Homo sapiens: one gene and its partner. The protein of the gene in region 1 purifies or fractionates together with the protein of each later gene. This does not show direct contact. Each region holds a gene or a part of one and is shown on either strand. Other genes may lie near its edges. The genes, in order: CTRL and ANKRD40.

Evidence for each region.
Region 2: the proteins of CTRL (region 1) and ANKRD40 purify together in Homo sapiens (affinity purification with mass spectrometry; 3 studies listed by BioGRID and IntAct, with this or other methods). This does not show direct contact.

Annotation. Positions count from the first base shown.
Region 1 is NC_000016.10:67,919,516-67,935,997, reverse strand, and holds CTRL (chymotrypsin-like protease CTRL-1 precursor), read left to right. Parts: upstream 1-4,135; 5' UTR 4,136-4,145; coding exon 4,146-4,197; intron 4,198-4,796; coding exon 4,797-4,900; intron 4,901-4,998; coding exon 4,999-5,078; intron 5,079-5,190; coding exon 5,191-5,272; intron 5,273-5,409; coding exon 5,410-5,590; intron 5,591-5,679; coding exon 5,680-5,813; intron 5,814-5,902; coding exon 5,903-6,064; 3' UTR 6,065-6,424; downstream 6,425-16,482. Other genes in the region: PSMB10 (proteasome subunit beta type-10), read left to right, coding at 1-35, 301-416, 520-578, 1,050-1,201, 1,327-1,438; PSKH1 (serine/threonine-protein kinase H1), read right to left, coding at 8,356-8,673.
Region 2 is NC_000017.11:50,704,915-50,715,415, reverse strand, and holds the start of ANKRD40 (ankyrin repeat domain-containing protein 40), read left to right. Parts: upstream 1-7,501; 5' UTR 7,502-7,761; coding exon 7,762-7,895; intron 7,896-10,501.

The DNA of each region.
Region 1 (16,482 bases):
ACGGTCACTCGCATCCTGCGCCAGACGCTCTTCAGGTGCGGGGGCAGGGCTAACAGGACCCCGGCAGGGGTAGTTACGGGGTTGGGGCCATTGGAAGGCGGGACAGAAAGAAGGGCGGGACCGCGACGGGCCAGGTGACCGGAAGAGGCCGGCCCAAGAGAACCTGGGCTACAGGAAAAGGCGATGTCAGTCATCGGGCGCCAGCCCACAGGAAGGGGCGGGGATAGCACCTAGGAGCTGGGCATAGAGAGGTGGGGCCTAGGCCCCAGCTTGTGGCCGACCCCGCCCATCCTCGAGCAGGTACCAGGGCCACGTGGGTGCATCGCTGATCGTGGGCGGCGTAGACCTGACTGGACCGCAGCTCTACGGTGTGCATCCCCATGGCTCCTACAGCCGTCTGCCCTTCACAGCCCTGGGTGAGCGCTTCTGTCCCTTCTCCTCGAACTCTGCCCCTGTGACCTTGGCCTCACTCCAAACGGCGTCGCAGCGGTTGACTTCAGATGCTTCTCCTGCCTTCAGGCTCTGGTCAGGACGCGGCCCTGGCGGTGCTAGAAGACCGGTTCCAGCCGAACATGACGGTGAGCGGCCTCTGTCCCCGACTTTGTGGTCGCTGGTGGGATGTGCACCCGGGAGCTGGGGGAGCACAGGACCCTGGCCCAGTGCGGGTGGCTAAGGCTTGTCGGAGGAGGTGACCACTGAAGGGTGAGTGGAGTAAGGGCAGAGAAGTGCGGTCCCGACATAACACCGTCCAATACCAAAGCCTGCACGGCTGGGAGAAGTCGAAGCTCACAGAGGATCTTTAGGAGCCGAGGGCGGAGAGAAGGACCAGTAGGGTCCTACTTATATCAACGTCTGGAGCCTAGATTTTGTTTGGGGTGGGATGGAAGCAGGTGATGTTGCCTCAGAGGTGGCTAAGGCTCAGAGGGAGAAACACAGTGGGGGTTTGGAGGGCAAGACCAGATTGGGTAAGTGGACAGGCAAGTCCCCAGGCTGTAGCCTAAGTTAACAGCAGAGAGAGCCCGTTAGGTCTCACACACCCATCACCGCAGCTGGAGGCTGCTCAGGGGCTGCTGGTGGAAGCCGTCACCGCCGGGATCTTGGGTGACCTGGGCTCCGGGGGCAATGTGGACGCATGTGTGATCACAAAGACTGGCGCCAAGCTGCTGCGGACACTGAGCTCACCCACAGAGCCCGTGAAGAGGTGAGAGCTGGAGATCGGGGACCACAGGGATGTGTGGGGCTATAGCAGGGGAGATAGGGGGCTGCAAAAAGGGGATGGGCCACATGACAGGCCCATGTTCAGAGGCTGTCCCTCCTCCCTCCCAGGTCTGGCCGCTACCACTTTGTGCCTGGAACCACAGCTGTCCTGACCCAGACAGTGAAGCCACTAACCCTGGAGCTAGTGGAGGAAACTGTGCAGGCTATGGAGGTGGAGTAAGCTGAGGCTTAGAGCTTGGAACAAGGGGGAATAAACCCAGAAAATACAGTTAAACAGATGGCTGTGTCATTCTTGAGTGGAATGGGGTGGGCAGGCAGCCAGCAGGGCTCTGTAGCTAAGGCGTCCCTGCAGGGGCCATTACCTACCATAGCTCTAGTGTCTGGCCTAAGAGATGCCCTTCACCCATAACCTCAGGCACCTACAACTCCAGAACCCCAGCCCTGGCCAGCATTGCAGGCTTGGTCTCCACCCAAACCTTCCTTCTGACTCCACACTTGAAGGCTCCCCCACCACTCCACTGTCTTGCTCTTGCCCTCTAGTCCACTGGAGACTTGTAAATTATGAAATACCCCATGTACTACCCCCTCCTAGAGACTTTCCATGGCTCCTCAGTGGCCCAGGACAAAGCTCATACCTTTCAATCAGGCCCCCACAGGCCCCACTGAGGGCTAAAGTGCTGACAAGAGGAGCCGCTCCCTGACTCCAAGGCAAGTTCTCACCAAGCACTCCTCAACCTCGCAACATCTTTACCTGTGACACCCCTTAGATGACGAGGCATGCCTGCACTGCTCACGTGAAGCTCGTCTTCTGTCTGCACATGCTGGGCTTGTGACTCCAAGTTTTCCAGGCTAATAAGGGTCACAGGACTCACATGGGGAGAGATGACACGTTTCTCCAACAAACCTTTGCTGGGCCCCTGCTGAGTCTCAGGCCTGGCTGCTGGGTGCCAGCAAGAGCATCCTGTCCTCAGCGAGAACGGCTGAACTCCGCTGGAGCTTCAGAAATGTCAGGGAGAGTCTACCCAGGGCCCAGGGAGGGTCTATGCCGGGCTGCACATCCCCAGGCCGCTGAGTGTGCTCCCTGCACCCCAACATTCTATTAATGAACATTTGTAAATGTAACAGAAAAGTAGAAAGAGTTGTATATTGAATACCCTTATACTGTCAGGTCACCACAGACCTGACAGTATTTTGTTATATTTGTTTTATCATCTATTCATCCCTCTATCCATTAATTCATCGCTCCTTTTTTTTTTTTTTTTTTTTTTTTTGAGACGGCGTCTCGCTCTGTCACCCAGGCTCTGGAGTGCAAATATTTTGTTATATTTGTTTTATCATCTATTCATCCCTCTATCCATTAATTCATCGCTCCTTTTTTTTTTTTTTTTTTTTGAGACGGAGTCTCGCTCTGTCACCCAGGCTCTGGAGTGCAGTGGCGCAATCTCAGCTCACTGGAAGCTCCGCCTCCCAGGTTCACGCCATTCTCCTGCCTCAGCCTCCCGAGTAGCTGGGACTACAGGTGCCCGCCACCACGCCCGGCTAATTTTTTTTTTTTTTGTATTTTTAGTAGAGACGAGGTTTCTACTGAACCTGTTAGCCAGGATGGTCTTGATCTCCTGACCTCATGATCCGCCCGCGTCGGCCTCCCAAAGTGCTGGGATTACAGGCGTGAGCCACCGTGCCCAGCCAATTCATCTCATTTTTTGGCTGATGCTGTTTCTTTGAGATGGGGTCTAGCTCCATCGCCCAGGCCGGAATGCAGTGGTGCACTCATGGCTCACTGCAGCCTTGAACTTAAGGGCTCAAGTGATCCCTCCTGCCTCAGCCTTCTGAGTTGCTGGGACTACAGGTGTGTACCATCATACCCAGCTCATTTCTTAATTTAAAAAAATTTTTTTTGTAGAGACAGGGTTTCATGATGTTGCTCAGGCTGGTCTCGAACTCCTGGAATCAAGCCTCCTACGTCTGCCTCCCAAAGTTTTGGGATTACAGGTGTGAGCCACCACACCCAGCCCTGATCTGTTCTTGAATCAGTTAAAGCCCTCACACTCCCAGAAGGCCGCCAGCCAATGCACCTGTTGGAACTTTGCACACAGGGTGTCTTCTCCCTTCAAGCTTGGTCTGCAGCTCAGTAACAAATGGGCTACAGACACCAGGGGCTTGCCCATGGGAGCCCCAAGGCCTAAAGAGGGTGGCAGAGATTTGATGTCTGTCACTCTCCACCTGCAGCCTCAGTCCACGGTCGGCCAGGCACCAAGAGCTCACACTTTGCCCTCCTAAATGCCAGGCCCTTCATAAGTATCATCTCATTGTTAAGAGCGGAGGCTTCAGCGCCAGACAAATGCGAGTTTGTGTACAACTCAACCACGTGCTGGTGGGAGAGTCACCATCTCTGAGCAGACCTGTGACTCCTGTTCCAAATGGACGAGGAACCACTGCGATGATGTGTTAGGACTCCCAGCCTGCCAGAACCTCACAGCCCCTGGCCCTTCACAGCAAAGTTGACCGCAGTGAGCATTCCATCCACCAGTCAGAACACCCTGGACGCTGAGCGGCCTTCTCTGAAAGCCTGGTGCCTTTGTTAGCCCTGGGTGACTCCTGTGATCCCAGCCACCAGGTTGTCACTATAGACCTAATTTAACCATCTGTCCTCAGTACCGAGGGCTCAACATTTGGAATGGGAGGTGGTTCTGGGAGCCAATTAGAGGCCAGGCTTTGGGAGGTGGCAGAGGTGAGTCTCACACCTGGGCTCTGTCTGATAAGTCTAGGTCTCGGTCAGGGGACCTTGGCCTAAAGGGCCTGTCTTGCCTGGAGCGTGGGAGGGGGCTGAGTCTACACAGCTGGCCTGGCCTCAGGCCTGGAGCTTTAGCTCAAGGACGAGAAGACCCATAAAGCCAGACCCAGCTCCCAACCTCACATCTGCCACGATGTTGCTGCTCAGCCTGACCCTAAGCCTGGTTCTCCTCGGCTCCTCCTGGGGTGAGTGGGCCAGGACCAGCCCTGATTCAGCCCTGGGAGCAACTCAGCTCCCAGCAACAGCCCAGGGAAGGAGCTAGGCTGGCTGGAAGGGACGAAGGTGGACAGAGTGGGCAAAAGAAACAGGATATGCCAGGGCAGTGGAGCAGGGAACAGGCCTGCAGGGCTGGGAGGGGGCAAGAGGTGGGGTGGTCTCACAAATAGGACCAGAGATTGAGCCAGGCCCTGGAGCCCGGGAGGGTTTAGGAAGCTGAGACAGGAAGACCTGTCCATGTCTTTTAGAAAGAACCTTCTGGCTGCATGAAGGGTATGAACTGTTCAGGTCGGGAGGGGGCAGAGAGACCAGGGGTAGAGATGGGGAACAGCGGGGACTAGGCTGGAGACAGATGTAGGAGAACAGCAGGGCTGGGGGACTGGGTGGATAGGGATAACCAAGATAGCTGTGGGGCCCGAAGGTGCTTGCATGTACCCTGTTGGGGAAGGGGTAGTGCTGTACCCTCTCGACAGACCTCTCTGGGGTGCACAGCCTGGGGCACCCAAAAGGAGGTGGGGAAAGATGGGCTGAGGCATGGGAAGCAGGTCCTCATTAGCCCAATGGCCAGGCTGCGGCATTCCTGCCATCAAACCGGCACTGAGCTTCAGCCAGAGGATTGTCAACGGGGAGAATGCAGTGTTGGGCTCCTGGCCCTGGCAGGTGTCCCTGCAGGTACACCACCAGAGGGGTGGGCAGGGTCCTGGGTACGTCATGCCTAGGGGCAGCCTCAGCAGCCCACCCCCACTCTGACCTCTGAGCCCTGACCACAGGACAGCAGCGGCTTCCACTTCTGCGGTGGTTCTCTCATCAGCCAGTCCTGGGTGGTCACTGCTGCCCACTGCAATGTCAGGTGAGTGCCTGCATTCCACCTGCCCCGCCCCTCGCCTCTTCCTGCCTCCTCCCCTGGCTGTCCCCCTCTCGCGCTGGCCTCCCTGCAGCTGCCTAATCCCACCCCCTTGCAGCCCTGGCCGCCATTTTGTTGTCCTGGGCGAGTATGACCGATCATCAAACGCAGAGCCCTTGCAGGTTCTGTCCGTCTCTCGGGTGAGTGCCTGGGCTGCAGACACGGAGGAAAAGTGGGCAGTGCAGGTGGGTGGGTGCTGGGAACGAGGAATTCAGGACATGCCCTGGCCTACCCTGCTCAGCACCCATCAGAACATGGACTGTTTCTGACCCCACAGGCCATTACACACCCTAGCTGGAACTCTACCACCATGAACAATGACGTGACGCTGCTGAAGCTCGCCTCGCCAGCCCAGTACACAACACGCATCTCGCCAGTTTGCCTGGCATCCTCAAACGAGGCTCTGACTGAAGGCCTCACGTGTGTCACCACCGGCTGGGGTCGCCTCAGTGGCGTGGGTAGGGACTCAGGCCAAAGCTCAGGGTGGGAGGACTGGGGTGGGGACCAGTGTTCTGGGCCCCATGTGACCACCCCTCCTGGCCCACAGGCAATGTGACACCAGCACATCTGCAGCAGGTGGCTTTGCCCCTGGTCACTGTGAATCAGTGCCGGCAGTACTGGGGCTCAAGTATCACTGACTCCATGATCTGTGCAGGTGGCGCAGGTGCCTCCTCGTGCCAGGTAAGCCCCAGCACCCGCTCCTCTGCGCTGTCCTGTGGTATACCTCCCCAACCCCCCCTACTCAATTCTCCCTCCCTCTTCCCTCTCAGGGTGACTCCGGAGGCCCTCTTGTCTGCCAGAAGGGAAACACATGGGTGCTTATTGGTATTGTCTCCTGGGGCACCAAAAACTGCAATGTGCGCGCACCTGCTGTGTATACTCGAGTTAGCAAGTTCAGCACCTGGATCAACCAGGTCATAGCCTACAACTGAGCTCACCACAGGCCCTCCCCAGCTCAACCCATTAAAGACCCAGGCCCTGTCCCATCATGCATTCATGTCTGTCTTCCTGGCTCAGGAGAAAGAAGAGGCTGTTGAGGGTCCGACTCCCTACTTGGACTTCTGGCACAGAAGGGGCTGAGTGACTCCTTGAGTAGCAGTGGCTCTTCCTAGAGTAGCCATGCCGAGGCCGGGGCCCCCACCCCTCCTCCAGGGCAACCCCTTGGTCCTACAGCAAGAAGCCAGAACTGTTGGAATGAATGGCAGCCCTCCCTGGAGAGGCAGCCTGTTTACTGAATACAGAGGATACGTTTACAAACTGAATACGCATAATAAATAACTGCACATTCTCCATCCACAGGCCATGGCATGAAGGCCCAAGTGGGTCTATCAAAGGCCCACATCTCCAAACCCCCTGTCCTGCCCTCAGGACCAGGCCCACCCTGGGCAAGAGAGAACGTAAGCCCCAGGGCTTCAGGTCCCCAGAGACACTTGGGGAACTGGGGGGAAATTCTGAGGCCATGGGGCTTGGTTCTCCACTGCCTCCTGCCCAGGGGGCATTGGGGACGGTAGGAGGATGTGTCTAAGGCATAGTCGACTTGGCACAGAGTGGTCTCTTTAGTTTTGTTTCCCACTGGAGGTGGCACATGCAGGAAAAGGGCCTGGCCCAGGCTGCCGACCGGCAGAAGCTGAGTGGGAACCAAACCCTCCTGCAATGGCAGGGGCCCTGCCGTCAAGCTAAGGCCAAAGCTGGGCCCTGGCCCCATTCTACCCACTGAAGGCAGCTGTGGAGGAAGGGGCTTGGGTTCCAGCCTGGTTTGTGGTAGGGGGAGATACCACAAAAGAAATGGGGATGGTTCTGGCTCAGGCCTCTGGGAAAGCAGCCACCCAACCCCACCCACCTCCCGCAGGGGCTCCTTCCAGCTTGAGGCTCAGTGGGACCCAGACTGGAAGGTTAATGCTGTGAAGGGAAGCAGCACAGGGTGGACGGGGCAAGGCCAGCTGTGAGAAGGCAGTGCCCCTGGCACCCTGGTTTCAGAGGCAGGTCACACAGTATGGCTAAGTTCCAGGGAGGGGTGCGCAGAAGCTCAGCAGAAGGGGAGAGGTGAGCAGCCCGGGACCCTCCCCCAGGGCGGCAACTCCTACCTTCCCATGTCCTCATGGAGGACTACAGGTGTGCACCATGGGTGGGTGTGCACGATGGGCAGGTGTGCACGATGGGCGTGCAGTGATCACTCCCAGGCTGCCAACACCCATGCAGACACCAGATGGCGCCTTCGTGCAGCTGCAGAGGAGGGAGCAACAGAGCCTGAAGGGAAAAGGCAATGGGGCTGCACCAAAGGATAGAACCCAGGCTGACACTCGACCCTAATCGGGAGGACCCCCTTCCCTCTGCCTTGGCCCCCAGGTGCCCCATTCCCCAGGTAGCAGCAGTGGGGCTCCCTTTAACCACCCCCAGTTGGGAAGGAGGCACCTGGGGAATGGAATGGACATCCAACGGGGAGAGGGAGGTAGCGGTGGGCTCTACAAAGAAGGCACCAAGGGCGGTGGGCTGAGACCCCTCAGAATCTGGAGAGGCTGGAGCCTGGGCAAGCCGATGACCAGCATGGCCACACAGTCCAGAAGGGTGAAGGTCCACGCCATGGCCCTCCACCAGAGGTCCTGGGACCAGGAAGGCTCCCTGGAGGCACCATGAAGGAAGACAGATCTTGGCTGGGAGGTGGAGGGCTGTTTCGACCTAGCCAGGGGCTACGGGTCCAGTCAAGGCACAAGCTTTGTGCCTACCAGGGTCTCCCACTGGAGCATAATCTTAAGGATCAGGATGCATGGGAATGTGTGAAACCAGGGAGAAGGGCTCTGTGGAGGAAAGGGGGTCCCAGAAGTAACTGTCCCAAAGGGTCCTGAGGCCACAGGACACTCCACCCAGCACTGCAGTTCCCTTTGATTGGGGAAAAGTCAAAGGGCAAGGGAGACAGTGAAGGCCAGGTCCTATCCCTTCCCAACTCCACCAGAGCAGCTGCCCACCAAGAGGGGTATCAGTGCCAGGCCAGGCTCCCAGTTCAGGGGGAGTCACAGCCCCCTGTGCTACCTCTACTCTGTCACACCTGGCCCAGGCCCATGGTGAGGACAGGGGCTGCTGAAGGCACAGAGAAAGGGCTGGAGCCAGACATTCTTCACCTACTGTGGGCCACATAGGCCTATCTCCAGAGAGGGCATCGGACCCAGATGGCACCACAGTGTGTGGCCAGGCTGGGTCGTGCTGCATGTGTGCACAGCCAGGCGGCTCAGCCATTGTATTGCTGCTGGTAGCGCAGGTTGAGCTCCCGCAGCTCCCGTTCCCGCACACGGCGTGACTTATTGGAGCGTGTGGAGCGGCTGGAACGCGTGGACTGGGCAGATTTGGTGCTCTGGCAGCGCGAGGAGGCACGTTTAAGGAGGTTCTGGGATATGGAGCGGTGCAGGTTCTTCATGGATGAAGAGGCAGCCATGCTCACCACCCACGGGTGCCTCAGGGCCTGCAGTGCAGTCATACGGGCTCCAGGGTCCACTGTCAGCAGGCGGTCAATGAAGTCCTTGGCCAGGTTGGACACACTAGGCCAGGGCTAGAGACCAAGGACAAGCATTAGAGTGAGAGCATCTGACACTGCCCACCCCATCTGGATGAGGCCACTACTCAGCAACCCTCCCCTTTCCAGAGAGAGGTGCTGCCCCTCCTCTCATGTAGCACTTGGGGCCTCCCCGCCCAACGCTGGCTCAGGCTGAACAAGGGCTGCTCTCCAGGTGATGGAGTCTGGCAAGGAAGGAAAGGACCTGTGCACTCTCCCAGGGAGCAAATTCTATGGTGCACTGGACCCAAAGCCTGGCTCAGGGAGATGGCCTCTGCCAAGACCCCCCCGAACTTGTCCCAGGAGTATCATAACTCAGGGGACTGTTAGAGAATGATTCAAACTTTCCCACCACATCCTAAGTCAGATTGAAGCTCCAATCTCTGGATGACCAGGATCAGGCTACTTAAAGGGGAACTTCCTAGTCCTTACAGAGAAGATCCAACCTCTCTCCAACTGCCGAAGCAGTGGCAGAAGACCACTGCTCCCTGCCTCTGCCTCCCGGCATGGGGAGGAAAGGAAACAATTCAAGGCAACTAGATTTCCCAGTCGGCTGAGGGCAGGCGATCCCGGGACCAGGAAGGAACCAGGACCCTTCTCAGTGGCACCCTCTGGCCCGCATTACTTCTCTAAGCCACAAAGGGCTCCTGGCAGTGCTGTGCGCCAGCCTCATTTTAGTACATTCTGTCCCCTGGGAGGAACTCCATAAAGCCCACTCTGCCACATGCACCCCGGGCTGCCTCATCTCAGCCCCGAACCCAGCAGCTGTCTGTCTCAGGGCCTCAGGTTGTACGGCTGTCTTCACCTGACTGGATCCTCAGGTTCTCAGGGTAAAGGACACTTGCTCAGACTCCCTCTTAGCCCCCAGTGCTTCCAGCAATTATTCCAGCTGTAACGTGAGACTGCAATTTCATGTTCGTTTAGTATTCCCATGAGATCATGCTGAGCTGGATGAGCCCGTGCCTGGTGCTGCGCATACAGGAAGCACTCAGTAGGCACAGGCTCAGACAGTAAACAACCCACGGTGCTGCCGGATGGGTGCCCTTTCCTGGAGCTGCTTCCAGGCCTTGGGGCTCAGCCAGGTGAGTCCTTGCGTCCCTGCATCTCCTAGGAACACTTCTGGCACGGGCTCTGAGGCTCCCCCAAGGATAGGCAGCTAGGACCTTTCCTGAGCCTGCTGCAGATGACTCAACAGGGATGCTAACGATCCCCTCACTTTCCTTCCTGCCAGGTGAGGTCTGCCTGTTCCACCCATGGTACCCTTCACCACCCATGGTACCCTTCACCTTGAGGAACCCCTGAACATGCCCTCCAGGGGGTTCAGGAGGATCTGAGAGACCACCTTCAGGGCAGGTGCACAGCCATCTAGCAGACACACACACTCACTGACTACTGCTACTCCCAGTCTGGCTCGCCTGACCTCCAACTCTTTCCCTACCCCCTTCCCCACTGCCACAGAGGGATGAGGCAGGGAGAACACGCTTCCACCGTCCTGAGGAAGGCCTGGGGCTACCTGCAGCTGCTGTCTTCACCCACTCTTTGGAAGGTTATTCCAAGTTTTACTGAGCTGAAGTGGGAGCAACAGGGGAACCATATTCCCAAACACACCTAACAGGGTCATCCTCATCAGTGGGCCAGCAGCACCCAGTGACTCCTGGGGAGATGCTGGCCCCCAGGAGGAGGAAAGTCAGGGTCCAGGAGCATGCAGCCAACGAAGGCCCATAGATGCCTTACTATCCAAGGGCTGTGGGTGGGCGCAGAGAGCAACAGCCCTCCCCGACAGGCAGGTAAGTCTCCTGGGGGCTTGTGTAGTTCAAGATTCATATTGAGGGCCAGGCGTGGTGGCTCATGCCTGTAATCCCAGCACTTTGGGAGGCTGAGGCAGGTGGATCACAAGGTCATGAGATCAAGACCATCCTGGCCAACATGGTGAAACCCCGTCTCTACTAAAAATACAAAAATTAGTCGGGCGTGGTGGCGTGCCTGTAGTCCCAGCTACTCAGGAAGCTGAGGCAGGAGAATTGCTTGAACCTGAGAGGCGGAGGTTGCAGTGAGCCAAGATCGCACCACTGCACTCCAGCCTGGCAACAGAGCGAGACTCCGTCTCAAAAAAAAAAAAAAAATATTCATATTGAGGTATTAAGGCCAATATGCAGGGCAACTGGACTAGACAGCTGCCACAATAGCTTTTGGATCACAGCTCAAGAAAACCCCAAAAGCCAGGAGCAGTGGCTTCCGCCTATAATCCCAACACTCTGGGAGTCTGAGGCAGGAGGACTGCTTGAGCCCAAGAGTTCAAGATCACCCTGGGAAAGATGGTAAGACTCCGCCTCAAAGAAAAAAAAAAATTAATAAATTTTTTTTTAAAAAAGAAAGCTCCATGGTTGCCTCCTGAACACAAGGAACCACTACTGGGGGCAGCCAGTCCAGACCACAGACATTCACTGTAGCCCCCATCACCCACCGGAGAGACAGAAAGAAGCTTGATGGAGACAGCACACACACAGCTGAACAGAGTGGGTCAGGGGACACCTCTGCTGCCTGCTGGCCTTCTACAGTCTCCAGGAAGAGGAGGACTCACTAGGAAGCAGGCTGCAGCTCAGTCTGGCCTGTTGCTGGAACAGCCCCAAGACAGGGCTGACAGCCCAGGGTGTCCCAACAGGGCTGGGAAATGGATTCTGCCCCTGCCCCTTGGTCCAGCCAAGACAAAAGAGGGGCAACTCCCCTACAGAGGCCAGGAGCCTGAACATGGATGGACTGGAGGTTTCACCACTTCACATCCACACCCAGCGAAACCGTGGACCTGAAACTCCAAACCAGTCACCAGTGCAGTCTTGGAGGGGCCTCTCCCCAGACCAGCCCTATGGTCTTAAGTGTCTCCATCTTCAGAGTGGCACAGGCTCACACCAGCAGGCATCAACCCCTGCTGCTCATGGAGCGGCCGGCCTGTTAGTGCCAAAGCGAGCCAGATTGATCCCTCTCCCCGCTGCTCCCCAAGATTCTCGCCTCACCAATTACTGTGGGCATGTGGCTGTGCGCAGAATGCAGATGGACTCATTTGTCTGAGGGCTGGCCTGGCCTCTCTGGCAGGTCCCAGCTCTTCCCATCTTTGAAGAGCTGTGAGCAGCTAGGCCAGGTGGGTCCCCCAAGCCAAAGTGACTCAAGTCGTCCTGAACTGGTCCCCAGCCTAACCCTTGTACACAGAGGAAAGTCAGGCTGAACACAAGAAGGTGGTCCTCATCCAGCTGACAGTGAGGCAGGGGCTTAGGGTGACCTTCAGAATAGCAGCCTCTGGAAGCCCTGCTGAGGCCTCCCACAGGGCTTAGAAAAGTAAGGCTTTCCACACTCGCCCACAGCCAGGCTTCAGGCCTCACATCAACTCAGCACCTCCTAAGAAAGCACTCAACGCCAGCAGCCCAACCCACCTGCTTCCCCTGGAGCCACGTAAGTATGTGTGTCAGCCAAGGGCTGACTGGCTGGGAAGCATTCTAAGCAGGAGAAAAGGGAAAATGATGAATAGTCATGCTCTTCAGTCTCCACAACTCTGTTTGTTCTAGGTGAAGAACTGAACTCGTGCCTCAGTATACTTATTTGAGCCATACCAGGGACACACATGGCCTCAGTTGGCTGACAGATGGCACAGGTGCCAAGACCCACCTGGGCAGTCTCTGAGGCTTCCACCTGCTTCTGGGCCGACGTGGAGCACGAGGCACAGAGGGAAACACTAAGATGTCAGCTGGCTCTACGCCCAGACTCTCAGGTCTTCCCTTGCTCTGGGATCAGAGAACAGCTTCCATACCCAGGGTGACAGCCTCCACTCTCTCCTTTCCACAGTCTCTGGGCAAGTCAGTGGCTCACACCTCTAATCCCAGCACTTCGAGACACTGCTGCGTGAGTGAGGGCTGGGTCCTGCTTCAAGAGGAAGACAAGCAGGGGCTGTAGGAGGAGGGCATCACCTCTGCTCTGATTCTGACCATCAAGCTGGCTGCCTTCCTCCTGAGTCCATGGCCCTCAAAAGAGTCCTTTTCCCCTTGCAGTTAGGGTACCTGCTCCTGATGTTGGAACAGCAAAGATGCCAATAATGGGTATGGGAAGCGACCTCTTCCGTGAGCACCTCCTTACCAACTAGCCTTCCTCATCCCCCTACCCATGCTGGGCCAAAGCCACTCCTAGGCAGTGGAGTCCTACTCCCCCTGGAGAGGGAGAGGCAGCACAGCAGGAAGGGCTTTCCGCTCCCGCCTGAGGACCCCCCGCACCAACCCTTTTCGTTTGCTCTAGCTCTAATGTCTGGCACAAGGGCCTGGCATGAACACTACCCAAGCCACTGCCAGCGGTCTCACCTGGAGCCTAAGGGCTAATGAAACAAAGAACAGCGCCAGCTCTCTAGCAGAGGCTGCAGACAGAGGAGGAAGCTGCTTCTTTCTGGCAGCAAACACAGCTTACAGGGCGGCCCTAGACTTCCTCTGGCAGGCAGGGCTGCCTACTGGCAAGTGAGGCTGGGAGAGAAAGGCCCCTTGGTGTGTCTTCTGAGTGGCATCTGGGATACGTTAAAGGGTTAGATTGCAAGCCCAGCAACCTGAGTTCTAGTTCTACCTTCTCTGTCGGCCTTAGAGAAATCACACCGCCTTCACTTTTAACACGAGGAAGGGGCTGAATGTCATGAACTCTAAGTCCCTTCCAGTTTATAAACTCCTGGATTCCTTTTTCTCCACCTTTTCCTTCACGTGGCCACATGTGAAGCGCAGAGTTTAGCATTTAAGCTGACCTCTTGAGCCCTGGGTTCCTTATCTAACCAATGATGATTCTGGGGCAGGCTGGCTGACAGAGGAGGTGGCCCCACCACAGTGCTTCTAGAGAAGGGATGGGAAGGGAGGAAGAAGCCTGGGCTTTGCTACCATGACTCAGTTCTTCCCTCAGCTCTATTTCAAGATGTATTTTCAGACCCACTATTCCCACCTTCAAAGGCCTCCTTTCTGTACTTACGTGGGCCTGAATGAGAGCAGAGAAAAGGGCACAGAGGAAATTCTGGAAACAGAGCTTTGAGTTTACTCAGGAAAGCAGCATGACAACAAGAACGGCACCCTGTCATGCTGCCCACGACGAAGAGCATCAGCAGAATTAGACACTGTGTGGCAGCAGAGCCAGCATCCCCTCCTGTGGTCAAAAACCCATCATCCTGGTGCCTGGGCTTCCAGACCAGACAGAATCTACCACCCTGGGACTCGGCAGAGGGCGGGTGAGGGGCAAGCAACAGAAAAGGGAAGGGTGTGGGGGGAGAGAGCCTGAGGAGAGAAATAGAGGGAAGATAATGCAGTTTTAAAAACAAGTAGAGAATTAAAAAAAAAAAAGCAGAGAATAAAGATTAAAATGAGAAAAGGTGTGACAACTTAAAGGTTAGTAAAGCTGTGTTCTGAAACTTGAAATGGATAACAAAATGAAATCGTGTGCCCCCACCTGTCCCTGCCCAGAGCCAGAGTGGAGGGGAAGGAGAGGAGAGAGACAGGACACAACTCAAGATCGAGAAGGATGCTATTTGCTCGCTTTGCAATAGGCCTGTGCCACCAACATAGCGATGTCTGCTTTTAACAATGTCCTGGAGTAGCCCTGGAAGGTTCCAGATTTAGAAGCCTGCTGCAGCGTGATCTCTTTTATCTACACTCATCAAGGGTTCCGCTGAGGCCAAGTGGTTCCCAGGGCCCAGCCTGGTTTTTTGATTTTTGTTTTTGTTTTTTTTTTTAAGAGAGACAGAGTCTCACTCTGTCACCCAGGCTGGAGTGCAGTGGCGCGATGTGCAATCTCAGCTAACTGCAACTCCGCCTCCCAGGTTCAACCGATTCTCCTGCCTCGGCCTCCCAAGTAGATGGGACTACAGGTGCATGCCACCATGCCTGGTTAATTTTTTGTATTTTTAGTAGAGACGGTGTTTCACCGTGTTAGCCAGGATAGTCTTGATCTCCTGACCTCAAGATCTGCCCGCCTCGGCCTCCCAAAGTGCTGGGATACAGGCGTGAGCCACAGCACCTGGCATTATTTTTTTTTTCTTTTTTTGAGACGGAGTTTTGCTCTTGTTGCCCAGGCTGGAGTGCAATGGAACCATCTCACTGCAAACTCTACCTCCTGGGTTCAAGCAATTCTCCTGCCTCAGCCTCCCAAGTAGCTGGGATTACAGGCATGCACCACAATGCCCAGCTAATTTTGTATTTTTAGTAGAGATGAGGTTTCACCATGTTGGTCAGGTCGGTCTCAAACTCCTGATCTCAGATGCCACCCACCTTGGCCTCCCAAAGGGCTGAGATTACAGGTGTGAGCCACCGTGCCCAGCCTTTTTTTTTTTTTTTAACTTCCTCCCATCCTAATTTCTGAGGCAGTTTGGAGGCTCAGTGACTGTAACCATCTCATCCACACTGCAGTCTCTGTCCCTGGAACCCCAGGCTTAGGGCCAGTGGTAGGTCAATATGGGATGGAGGAAGAATGAAGAGATGAATGTGACTAAGCCTTCTGCTCCAAGCTGGCTGGGCCACAAGGGAGCAGAGCTCTCTGGGCACCACACATCTACCGAGGGACGTCAGGCACGATGGAGAAGGGTAACCTTGTGTGATGGGAGGACTGACTAGGGAAGGTGAGCTTGGAGAGGCACAGCCAGTGAGGATGGCTGGACCAGGTCACCATCAGCTATGCCATGCAATTGAGAGCCAGCCTCCACCTCAGTAGGTGTGGGAGGAGGATGAGCATGGGATGCTATGAGTGGATCTAAAGAGGTCAGGGCTGGGCACAGTGGCTCACGCCTTTAATCTCAGCACTTTGGGAGGCCGAGGCAGGAGGATCACTTGAGGCCAGGAGTTCAAGACCAGGCTAGGCAACATAGACCCTATCTCTACAAGAAACCTAAAAAATTAGCCCGGTGTGGTGGCCCACACCTGTAATCCCAGCTACTCGGAAGGCTGAGGCAGGAAGATGGTTTGGGCCCGGGAGTTTAAGGTTACAATGAACTATAATCACACTACTGCACTCCAACTCTTGTTCCTCTACAACAAGACCTTGTCTCTATTAAAAAATAATAATAAATAAATAAAGAGGTCAGAATGTGGGAGAGATACAGTCCAGCAGCTCCCAGAGGAACTTGAGGGCCCAGAAGCGACAGAGCCTGTGAAAGGCAGTGCTCTCCAGGTGGAGACAGACAATGAAAAGACAGGAGAGGGAGGGGATGGCTGACGCACCAGGGATGGCTCTGAGTGCAAGCCACCACACCCTGCTCTTTGTTGGCCAGGCCTCAAGGGCTGGAGGTGGAAAAAGTGATGAAAGGCAGCTGTGACCCAGGGTGACGTGATGCTATGGGTGGTCAGCAGGAACGGCTGAATGCAGCAGCGTGGCGGGTGGGTCTGCTCCTGCCACTACAGGGAAGTTGCTGCTTTCTGGGGTGTATGCAACCAGGGCAGCAGTGACAAAGGGAAACCTAGAGGACAGGGCTCTGGGGAGCCCAGTGGTGGCACAGAGGTGACACAAGATGGGGCTGCTGCTCTTCTCCACTCAGAGCTTCCTCTGGCCTCACATGGAGAGAGCTTCCTCTGCCTTCCTGCCAGAGGTCTCCAACCAAGGGCAGGTCCCCAGCCACAGTGACCAACTGAGGGTCCACTGCCTCCATCCAGTGGCCCAAACCATGCCACCTCCCAGTGACTAGTCAGGAATCCAGCCTGAGGGCATTGGCTCCTGCAGTGAAGGAGGGAGACTTAATCTGTTGAACACTTCGTGTTTTGGTGAAGTGGGGATGGCTTTTCCCAAGGGAACCTTCCTGGCCAGGTATGGGGG
Region 2 (10,501 bases), on another chromosome or scaffold:
ATTGCTTGAACCCAGGAGGCAGAGAGTGCAGTGAGCTAAGACCATGCCATTGCACTCCGTCCTGGGTGACAGAGTGAGACTCCATCTCAAAAAAGAAGAAAATGTTATGGGCTGAACTGTGTTCCTGTCACCTCCAAACTCATATGTTGAGGCCTAATTCCTGGAACCACAGAATGTGACTGTATTGGGAGATCGTGCATTTGAAGATGATGATGAAGTTAAAACAATGCTGTTAGGTTGGGCCATAATCCTATCATACTGGCGTCCTTATACGAGGAAATTTGGATACACAAAGAGGCACCAAGGATGCACTTGCACAGAGAAAAAGCCACGTGAGGACATGGTAAGAAGGTGGCCATTTACAAGCCAAAGACAGAGGCCTCCAGAGAAACCAAACCTGCCAACACCCAGATCGTAAACTCATAGCCTCCAGAAAATAAAAATCTCATTTGTTTAAGCATCTAGTCTGTGGTATTTTTGTTATGATAGCCCTAGCAAGCTAATATAGAAAGGAAGCTGCAGTTACTACAGGTCTTCTCACTGCTTCCCAGCCTCCCAGCCTCCAGTGCGGGCCCCTTGACCCCATCCTCCATCTATCTTGCTGCCTCAGTCACCTTTCTTTTTTTTTGAGACGGAGTCTCACTCTGTTGCATAGGCTGGAGTGCAGTGGCACGATCTCGGCTCACTGTAACCTCTACCTTCCAGGTTCAAACAATTGTCCTGCCTCAGCCTCCTGAGTAGCTGGGACTACAGATGCACGCCGCCATGCCCAGCTGTTTTTTTTGTTTTTTTTTTTTTTGTACTTTAGTGGAGACAGGGTTTCACCATGTTGCCCAGGCTGGTCTCAAACTCCTGAGCTCAGGCAATCCGCCCGCCTCAGCCTCCCAAAGTGCAGGTATTACAGCCATGAGCCACCACGCCCAGCCATCAGTCACCTTTCTAAATGTAAATCTAGATGTGTCTCATCCCTGCTCGAAAGGCTCCAACTGGCCAGGTGCAGTGGCTCACACCTCAGCACTTTGGGAGGTCGAGGCTGGTAGATTGCTTGAGCTCCAGAGCTTGAGACCAGCCTTGGTGATGTGGCGAAACCCTGTCTCTACTGCAAATACAAAAAGTAGCTGGGCATGGTGGCACGCGCCTCTATTCCCAGCTACTCAGGAGGCTGAGGTGGGAGGATTGCTGGAGGCCCAGGAGGCAGAGGCTGCAGTGAGCCAAGATGGCACCATGCATTCCAGCCTGGGTCTCAAAAAACAAACAAACAAACCAACAAACAAAACGCCTCCAACCTTAGAGGCGATGGCTCCCCATCATCTCCACTCTAAGGTTCAAACACCACAAGGTGGTCTGTGCTCTGACCCCCTTCTCCAACTTCATCTGCTACTGCTTCCAGTACTTGGAAGACCCTTGATTCCTGCATTTCACCATCTACGTTGCTCCAGGCATGGAAAGCTCTTCCACTCCAGCAGCAAGCAACACCTACTCATCCTTTTTTCAGAGACGGTCTCACTCCTGCCTCAGCCTCCTGAGCAGCCGGGGTTACAGATACGAGCCCCTACTCATCTTTCAGCTTACAGCCCCAGTTTCAGCAGCTCCACAACGCCACCCTGGACCCTGGCCCTCCACCTGCTACACACTGATCACCTTCTTTGTGCCATCATTTTACCTGAAGCATCCTTGCATATTTTTGGGTTTGTCACACGATATTGCAAATAGCAATTTCTTCCCTTAGAATGAAAGGTTTTTTGTTGTTGTTGTTGTTGTTTGTTTGTTTTTGTTTGTTTTTTAGGTCAGGTGCCAGCCTGGGTGACAGAACAAGACCCTGTCTCAAAAAAAAAAAAAAAAAAAAAAGGCAGGACCTTTCAGGTGTGATTAGGTCATGAAGGCAGAGACCTCAGGAATGGTATTAGTGCCATTCATAAATGAGGCCCGAGAGAGCTCCTTTGCCCCTTCTGCCATGCCATGTGAGGAAAAAATGAGAAGCTGGCAGTCTGCAACCCAGAAGAGGGCCCTCGACAGAACCTGACCATGCTGGTACCATGATCTTGGAATTTCAGCTTCCAGAATTGTGAGAAAAAAATTTCAGTTGCTTATAAGCCACCCAGGTTGTGGTATTTTGTTATAGCATCCCAAATGGACTAAGAAAGTCTGGTGGCTACCTGTACCACCTCACTGCACCTTTCCTCTTCAATGGCACCAGCAAGCTTGTGATGGTTAAACCCATTTCATGTGTTTCAGCCCTTTCTTTCTTGCCCTTTCTGCAGCATTTGACCCTGTGGATCACTCCCTTGTCTCCAAACCCTCCCACTCCTTTGCTTTTCCTCCTGCTAGTCTATTAATAGCTGCTCCTCTGCTCTCATTTGAGAATTTCTTCTCTTCTGTCCGTCATTAAAATGTTGACTACAGATGCTCCTCAACTTACAAAGGGGTTAGATCCCAATACGTCCATTAGGTTGAAAATGCATTTAATGCACCTAGCCTATGGATAGTTTGGCTCTGTGTCTCCACCCAAATCTCATCTAAAATTGTAATCCCTATGTGTCCAGGGAGGAAGCTGGTGGGAGGTGATTGGATAATGGCGGCGGTTCCCCCATGCTGTTCTCGTGATAGGGAGTGAGTTCTCAGGACATCTGATGGTTTAAAAGTGTGGCTCTTCCCCTTCGCTCTCTCGCTCTCTCTCCTGCCACCCTGTGAAGGAGGCGCTTGCTTCGCCTTCCCATAATTGTAAGTTTCCTGAGGCCTCCCCAGCCATGTGGAACTGTGAGCCAATTAAACCTCTTTACTTTATAAATTACCCAGTCTCCGGTAGTTCTTTTTTCTTTTTTTTTTTTTTAAACAAAGTCTTGCTCTGTCGCCCAGGCTGGAGTGCAGTGGCACAATCTAGGCTCACTACAGCCCCTTCCTCCCAGGTTCAAGTGATTCTTGTGCCTCAGCCTCCCGAGTAGCTGGGATTATGGGCTTGCGCCATCACACCCACCTAATTTTTGTATTTTTTAGTAGAGACAGGGTTTCTCCATGTTGGCCAGGCTGGTCTCCAACTCCTGGCCTCAAGTGATCATCCACCTGTCTTTGGCCTCCCAAAGTGCTGGGATTATAGGCATGAGCCACTGTGCCCAGCCTTAGGTAGTTCCTGATAGCAGTGTGAAAATAGACTAATATACCTACCAAACATCATAACTTAGCCTAGCCTTAAATGTGCTGAGAATACTTTAATTAGCCTACAGTTGGGTAAAATCATCTAACACAAAGCCTATTTTATAATAAAGTGTTGAATATCTCACGTAATTTATTAAATACTGTACTGAAAATGAGAAACAGAATAGTTGTTTGGTTACACAAAGTAAGGTTTCTACTTATTTTTGCACTTTTGTGTATCACTTTTGCACTGTTGTAAAGTAAAAGAATCCTAACTGCAACCATCATAAGTTGGGAACCATCTGTATTCTTCAGTCTTTGGCTGTCTTCTTTTTAAAAATTATTTATTTACTTACTTATTTTAAGACAGGGTCTTACTGTCAGGGTTTCACTGTGTTGTCCAGGCTAGTCTGGAACTCCTGGGCTCAAGGGAATCCTCCTGTCTCAGCATCCTGAGTAGCTGGGATTAACAGGAACAAACCACCATTCCTGGCTGTCTTCAGCAGTCTTTTTTTTTTTTTTTTTTTTTGAGACAGAGTCTTACTCTGTTGCCTAGGCTGGAGTGCAGTGGCATGATTTCGCCTCACTGCAACCTCCACCTCCCAGGTTCAAGTGATTCCCCTGCCTCAGCCTCCTGAGTAGCTGGGAATACAGGTGCGCTCCACCACACCCGGCTACTTTTTGTATTTTTAGTAGAGACAGGGTTTCGCTCTGTTGGCCAGGCTGGTCTGGAACTCTGACCTCAGGTGATCCACCCTCCTCCGCCTCCCAAAATGCTGGCATTACAGGCATGAGCCACCGCGCCTGGCAGGAGTCTTCTCTCAGCACTCACAGACTCCCTTGGGGCTATCTCTTCTATTCCCATGACTTCAGCTAGCACCCTTTGCTGACTGCCAAAATACAAATCACCAGCCCAGATCTCCTTCCTAAATGCAATACCCATTCACATAACTGTTTACTGAACATATCCATTTAAATGAAAATCAGAAAAGAAAGCACAGGCTCAGAAGTTGAACTTGAGTTCAAAGCCTTGCTCCATCACAAACTACGATGTATAGCATTGGGCAAGTTTGTTTATTTATTTATTTATTTATTTTTGAGACAGAGTCTCACTCTGTTGCCCAGGCTGGAGTGCAATGGCGAGATCTTGACTCACTGCAACCTCTGCCTCCAGCACCTGCCGCCACGCCCATCTAATTTTTGTATTTTTAGTAGAGACGGGGTTTCGCCATGTTGGCTACGCTGGTCTCAAACTCCTGACCTCAGGTGATCTGCCCGCCTCAGCCTCCCAAAGTGCTGTGATTACAGGCATGAGCCACCGTGCCTGGCCAGCACTGGGGCAAGTTAATTACCTCCCTGAGCCTCAGATAATAATGATGGTCCTGTTTTACAGAGGAGTTGTTGTGAGGATTAAATGAGATAATCCATGTACAGCACTTCCTGCAGCACCTGGCAATGAGTTGATAGTAGCAGATAGTAAAGAGTAGTAGTAATTAAAAGGTCTCAGAAAGTTCAAGTCAACAGATTCAAAAGTGAATTCATGACCAAACCTCAAACCTTCTCTTCATCCTTTGTCCCAAATCTCAATAAATCACACCACCATCTAATCATCCAGAAACCCGAACATTATCCTTGTTTCTTGACCACCACTGCCCTCCCATTCTGCCAGGTTAAGTTTTCCTAACGTAAACCTTGTTGTAACCCACCTATGATCCAATGAATGTTTAAGATGTCTAGGCTTTGCACATATCCATTCATTCAATCCATAGAACAATCCTGCAAGGTGGGTGCTACTATTATTCCTGTTTCGCAGGTGCAGAATTTGAGGCACAGGAAAGTTGAGTAACTCATTCAAGATTATATGAGTGGCAAAGCTGGCATACAAACCCAGGCAGTCTGGCGTCTGTCTCCACACTCACTACCACTATGCCACATTGTTTCTATTGTAATGCATAGCACATTCTATTGTTCGCCTTGTCTCCCCTGATAAACTGTTCTTCAAAGTCAAGGACTCTGATTCATTTGCAGCAGCATCCTCAGTGACTAGAACAGTGCCTGGCAAACAGCACATGCTTAATACAGTTCAGTGAGTTAGGTAGTTCCCTAGAGACAAGACAGAGTAGAGATAAATGGAAGTAGTAATAGAACAGCCAGCAGGTTACATTCAGTTATATCCAAGATCAGAAGTTTTGTTTGTGGATAAAATTTTGTTTTTTTTAATCTGAAGATAATAAACAGAAGACTGAAATCAGAGTAAGTAGAGGTTGAGTTTAAGAAGATCTACTAATATTCACGGATACAGCAGTTATGTAGGGTACATGCTATAATCCTTTTAAGGAAGGGACATTTGACAAACTCTCATAAAGAGAACTCATAGACTTTGGGGGCCGGGCGCGGTGGCTCATGCCTGTAATTCCAGCACTTTGGGAAGCTGAGGCGGGCGGATCACCTGAGGTCGGGAGTTTGAGACCAGCCTGAGCAACATGGAGAAACTCCGTCTCTACTAAAAATACAAAAAATTAGCCAGGCATGGTGGAACATGCCTGTAATCCCAGCTACTCAGGAGGCTGAGGCAGGAGAATCGCTTGAACCTGGGAGGTGGAGATTGTGGTGAGCCGAGATCGCGCTGTTGCACTCCAGCCTGGGCAATGAGAGCGAAACTCCTCCATCTCAAAAAAAAAAAAAAAAAAAAAAGAACTCATAGACTTTGGGGTGCAGTCACGAACAATTTTTTTTAACTGCATTAAAAACAAAAAACAACAACAACAAAAAAACAAAAACAGGCCAGGCGCGGTGGCTCATGCTTGTAATTCCAGCACTTTGGGAGGCTGAGGCTGGCAGATCACATGAGGTCAGGAGCTGGAGACCAGACTGGCCAACATGGTGAAACCCCATGTCTACTAAAAATACAAAAATTAGCCGAGCATGGTGGCACAGGCCTGTAATCCCAGCTGCTCGGGAGGCTGAGGCAGGAGAATTGCCTGAACCTGGACTTAGAGGTTGCAAGGAGCTCAGAGATCGCCCCACCGAACACCAGCCTGGGCAACAGAGTGAGACTCTGTCTCAAAAACAAGCAAACAAAAACAACAAGCCACTACCTACTCCCATGTCACTGAAATTGTGTTGAAGGACTCAAATCCAGTGCCATACACATCAGTTTCAGATAGAGTATCATGCTGGATGTGAGAATTAAAATTTAAATTGGGGGAACAAATGAAAATGTAAGCTCAAGCAGGGTTACAATTTGCCATGGGGGTCAATTTAAGTGTGTAGTCAGTTTATATTCAGCACCACCTGGTGTGCACTGTGTACTGTGTGAATTACTGTATCATACTAAACAAACAGACATTGGTTTTTCTTAAACTGTAGCAAGAAAAATGCTTGCTGTGCAGATCCCAGCAGCCCCAAGAGACGGAAATGAAAACTCCATGCCTAAATTTATCCCTTCCTATTTCATCTCTCCTTGTTCAGGCCTTCCTCCCTTCCTCCCCAGGGCTATTTCCTTAATCTTGACCCCATCTGTAAAGTTCCATCCTGTGCCACATCGGAGGATCTCTTCAGGGCACCTGGGCTCAACAAAACAATATTTCCTTTTTCTCCCACTGGGTATAAAACAGTGCCAACTGAGGCTCTGAGCCTCATTAGATAGATCGGGCAAGAAGTGAAGCAAAATGCTGTTTACATGTACACCACAGCTCTTCCCAGAGCACTTGGAATCAGGACCAGGACACCTCCAAAGCCTCTTTGGTGTTTTTCCTTTCTTTTCTCCTTATATGGCCTTCATGAAGAGTAACTAATTACAATCTGTAAGCAGTAATTACAGTTCATAAACTGTGAGCACAATATAAATATTTTTCCTGAAAGCCAGGTTAGAAGAAATCCTGTCTAAAATGAGATGTAAAACAACAACAATTGAAATAAATATTCTAACTGAATTGTCCCCAAGCACTGTCAAAAAGAAGAAGAGTCTAATCTATCTCTGTAATAATGGGCGTATTATAGTAGGATCGTTTTCAGCCCATTTCCCCATCCTGCTGGGCACGAATTGGCTCAGATAAGGAAAAGGAGCCAACCAAACTGGGGGAAAATAACAAAAAAACCCCAAATCCCAATAAAAAGAACCCACCAATTATTTTGGATGCCTGGTAAACAGCCTGCACCAGAGGATAAGGCTTTTCTGGCCCTCAGCTATGCTTTTTTCTCTTTTCATGTGTCTTGTCCTCCTCCCTTGAAACTGCGGGGTGGGGAAGTCTAAAAATAGTCAATGAATCATGGCATATAATATTGTGCAGTAGTTACATAAACAGCCAGCCCGGGCGCCGGAGCCCCGGGTCGGAACGGAAAATATCTGGGTCAGCGTTGTCACACTGAACAGGGTCCCCCGGAGCCGGCCTTCGGGAGGCGCGGCCCGGGAGGAGGCCTGGGCCTGCGGGCCGGGAGCAGCAGGGGCGGCCCGCGGGAGGGAGCGGAAGTCCCGGGGCGGGCGCGGGCAGCGGCGCGAGCAGGGCGGGCGAGTTCCGCGCTCCCTCCCCATGGCCGGGAGCGGGCCGCGGCGACGGCGGCGGCGCTGACAGGCCCCGGGCGGGGCGGGGCAGGCGGGCCTGGGCGGGGGCCTGGGGCTGTGGGAAGATGAACGCCCTCCTAGAGCAGAAGGAGCAGCAGGAGAGGCTGCGGGAGGCCGCGGCCTTAGGGGACATTCGGGAGGTGCAGAAACTGGTGGAGAGCGGGGTGGATGTGAACTCCCAAAATGAGGTCAACGGCTGGTAAGTGGGGAGCGGGGGAGGCCTAGGGTCAGGGCAGCCGGTCGGAAGGCGTGGGGCAGTCAGTCGCGACCTGGGCCCAGCGCGGGACGCCTGGCTACGGCGAGGCCTGCCACCTCGGGCCTCCGAGATTGTGCTCTCTTGAGGCCAGCCCTGGCCCCCATGCCTCGTGCGGTCGGGAGCGCGTCCTGCCCAAATCCCGGCCCACGTGGTCCACTCGGGGCAGCGCCCACTGGGACTCTGGTGCCCTACCCCCTTCCCCCGCGCTCCCGGCTCACTTGGTCAGAGCGGTGCTGGAGGCAGTGATTCTCAGCGACTATGCGTTGGAGCTCACCCCAATTCGAGTGTTGAGTTAATTTGCCGTAGGTGCTTCTGGAGAACGCATCTTGCAGAGCTAAAAGCATAAGCAACTGAGCAAATATGAATTTTATAAACTAGCACGATTTCCTTAGCCAAGACCAGGAAAAAAAAACACATTTGCATCACCATTCTGCTTCTCTGTTGTTTCACTGCAACCGATTTGCTGCTGCTGCCTGTAGTTGCCTGTTTGAGGGAAAACTCATTTGTTTATCCTATCGATTATTTTCTTTCTTTTTTTTTTTTTTTTTTTTTTTTTTTTTGAGACAGGGTCTTGCCCTGTCGCCCAGGGTGGAGTGCAGTGGCATAGTCTCGGCTCACTGCAACTTCTACCTCCCCGGCTCAGGTGATCCTCCTGCCACAGCCTCCCAAATAGCTGGGAATACAGGCACGCGCCCCCACACCCGGCTAATTTTTTTTTTTTTTTTTTTTGGTATTTTTGGTAGAGATGGGGCCAGGTTGGTCTCAAACTCCTGGCCTCAAGTGATCCACCCGCCTCAGCCTCCAAAAGTGCTGGGATTACAGATGTGAGCCTACCGTTCCTGGCCAGTTTTCTTATTACAATTTCAAATACAGAATGTCACCCAAGACTTTAGATGTCTGCCTGCAGATTGAATTCTTCCCAATTAAATAAGGAGTCTCATCTTAAGATGTTGCTGGTGGTCAAAACAGAAAGTTACTGAATGTGGCATTATTCCGCTCTCTGCATTTAAAATTTAAAATTTTGATTCAGGTAATGCTTAGCCAGACTATTTTGCTAGCTTAGAGTTAAAGTGAGTAGCACTTTGGGAGGCTGAGGTGGGCGGATCACGAGGTCAGGAGATCAAGACCATCCTGGCCAACATGATGAAACCCCGTCTCTACTAAAAATACAAAAATTAGCTGGGCGTGGTGGTGCATGCCTGTAGTCTCAGCTACTTGGGAGGCTGAGGCAGGAGAATCACTTGAACCTGGGAGGCGGAGGTTGCAGTAAGCCAAGATTGCACCACTGCACTCCAGCCTGGGCGACAGAGCAAGACTCTACCTCAAAAAAAAAAAAAAGTGAGTTTACATTTTGTTTTTTTAAGTGGAATCATCCATTTTGGAACTGAAAGGGACAATGGAGAGAGGCTCAACCACAGAGAATAACTTGCCCTAGGCCACATAACTATTAATATGATAGCACCAGAACCATGGTTTCCAGACTGCCTCAAAAGTCTACCTACCTGGACCTGGCGCGGTGGCTGACGCCTGTAATCTCAGCACTTTGGGAGGCCAAGGTGGGCAGATCACGATGTCAGGAGTTCGAGACCATTCTGGCCAACATGGTGAAACCCTGTCTCTACTAAAGATACAAAAATTAGCCAGGGGTAGCGGTGTGTGCCTGTCATCCCAGCTACTTGGGATGCTGCAGCAGGAGAATCACTTGAACCAGGGAGTTGGAGGTTGAAATGAGCCAAGATCACACCACTGCACTCCAGGCTGGTGGCAGAGCGAGACTCTGTCTCAAAAAAAAAAAAAAAAAAAGTCTATCTTCCTGGTAGGACCTGGTGGCTCACGCCTGTAATCCCAGCACTTTGGGAGGCCAAGGCAGGAGGATCACTGGAGTCCAGAAGTTTGAGACCAGCCTGGGCAACATAGTGAGATCCCAGTCTCAAAAAAAAATTTTTTTCTACCTAATTTCCCTAAAGAAAACAGCCTGGACAGCTGTCCAGAAGGCCAGGAAACAGTGGATACTACCTTTTTGTTCTGTTTTTTTTTTTTTTTACAGGTCTTTGCAAACTTGCTGTTGTGTATGTAACCTTTTCTCAGCATTCCTCTGGTTCAAAGCTGTGAATTACCATTTTGGCACTGGGAGGCGGTGTTGTGTAGAAGGAGCCTGGTCTTTCCTGCAGGTTCTCCTCCATTCCTGCCTAGCTATGGGACTTTGCCTGAGATGCTTCATTTTCTACTTGTTCCAGAAGAGTATTGTGAGCCCTTAATGAGATGAAGCATAAATAGCTAACATTTATTGAACTTGCTTTGCAGCACAGATAGGATAGGGTTCTTTTTTTTTTTTTTTTTTTTGAGACAGAGTCTCGCACTCTCGCCCAGGCTGGAGTGCAGTGGTGCCAGGTGCCATCTTGGCTCACTTCAAGCTCTGCCTCCTGGGTTCACGCCATTCTCCTGCCTCAGCCTCCCGAGTAGCTGGGACTACAGGTGCCCGCCACCACGCCCGGCTAATTTTTTGTATTTTTAGTAGAGATGGGGTTTCACCGTGTTAGCCAGGATGG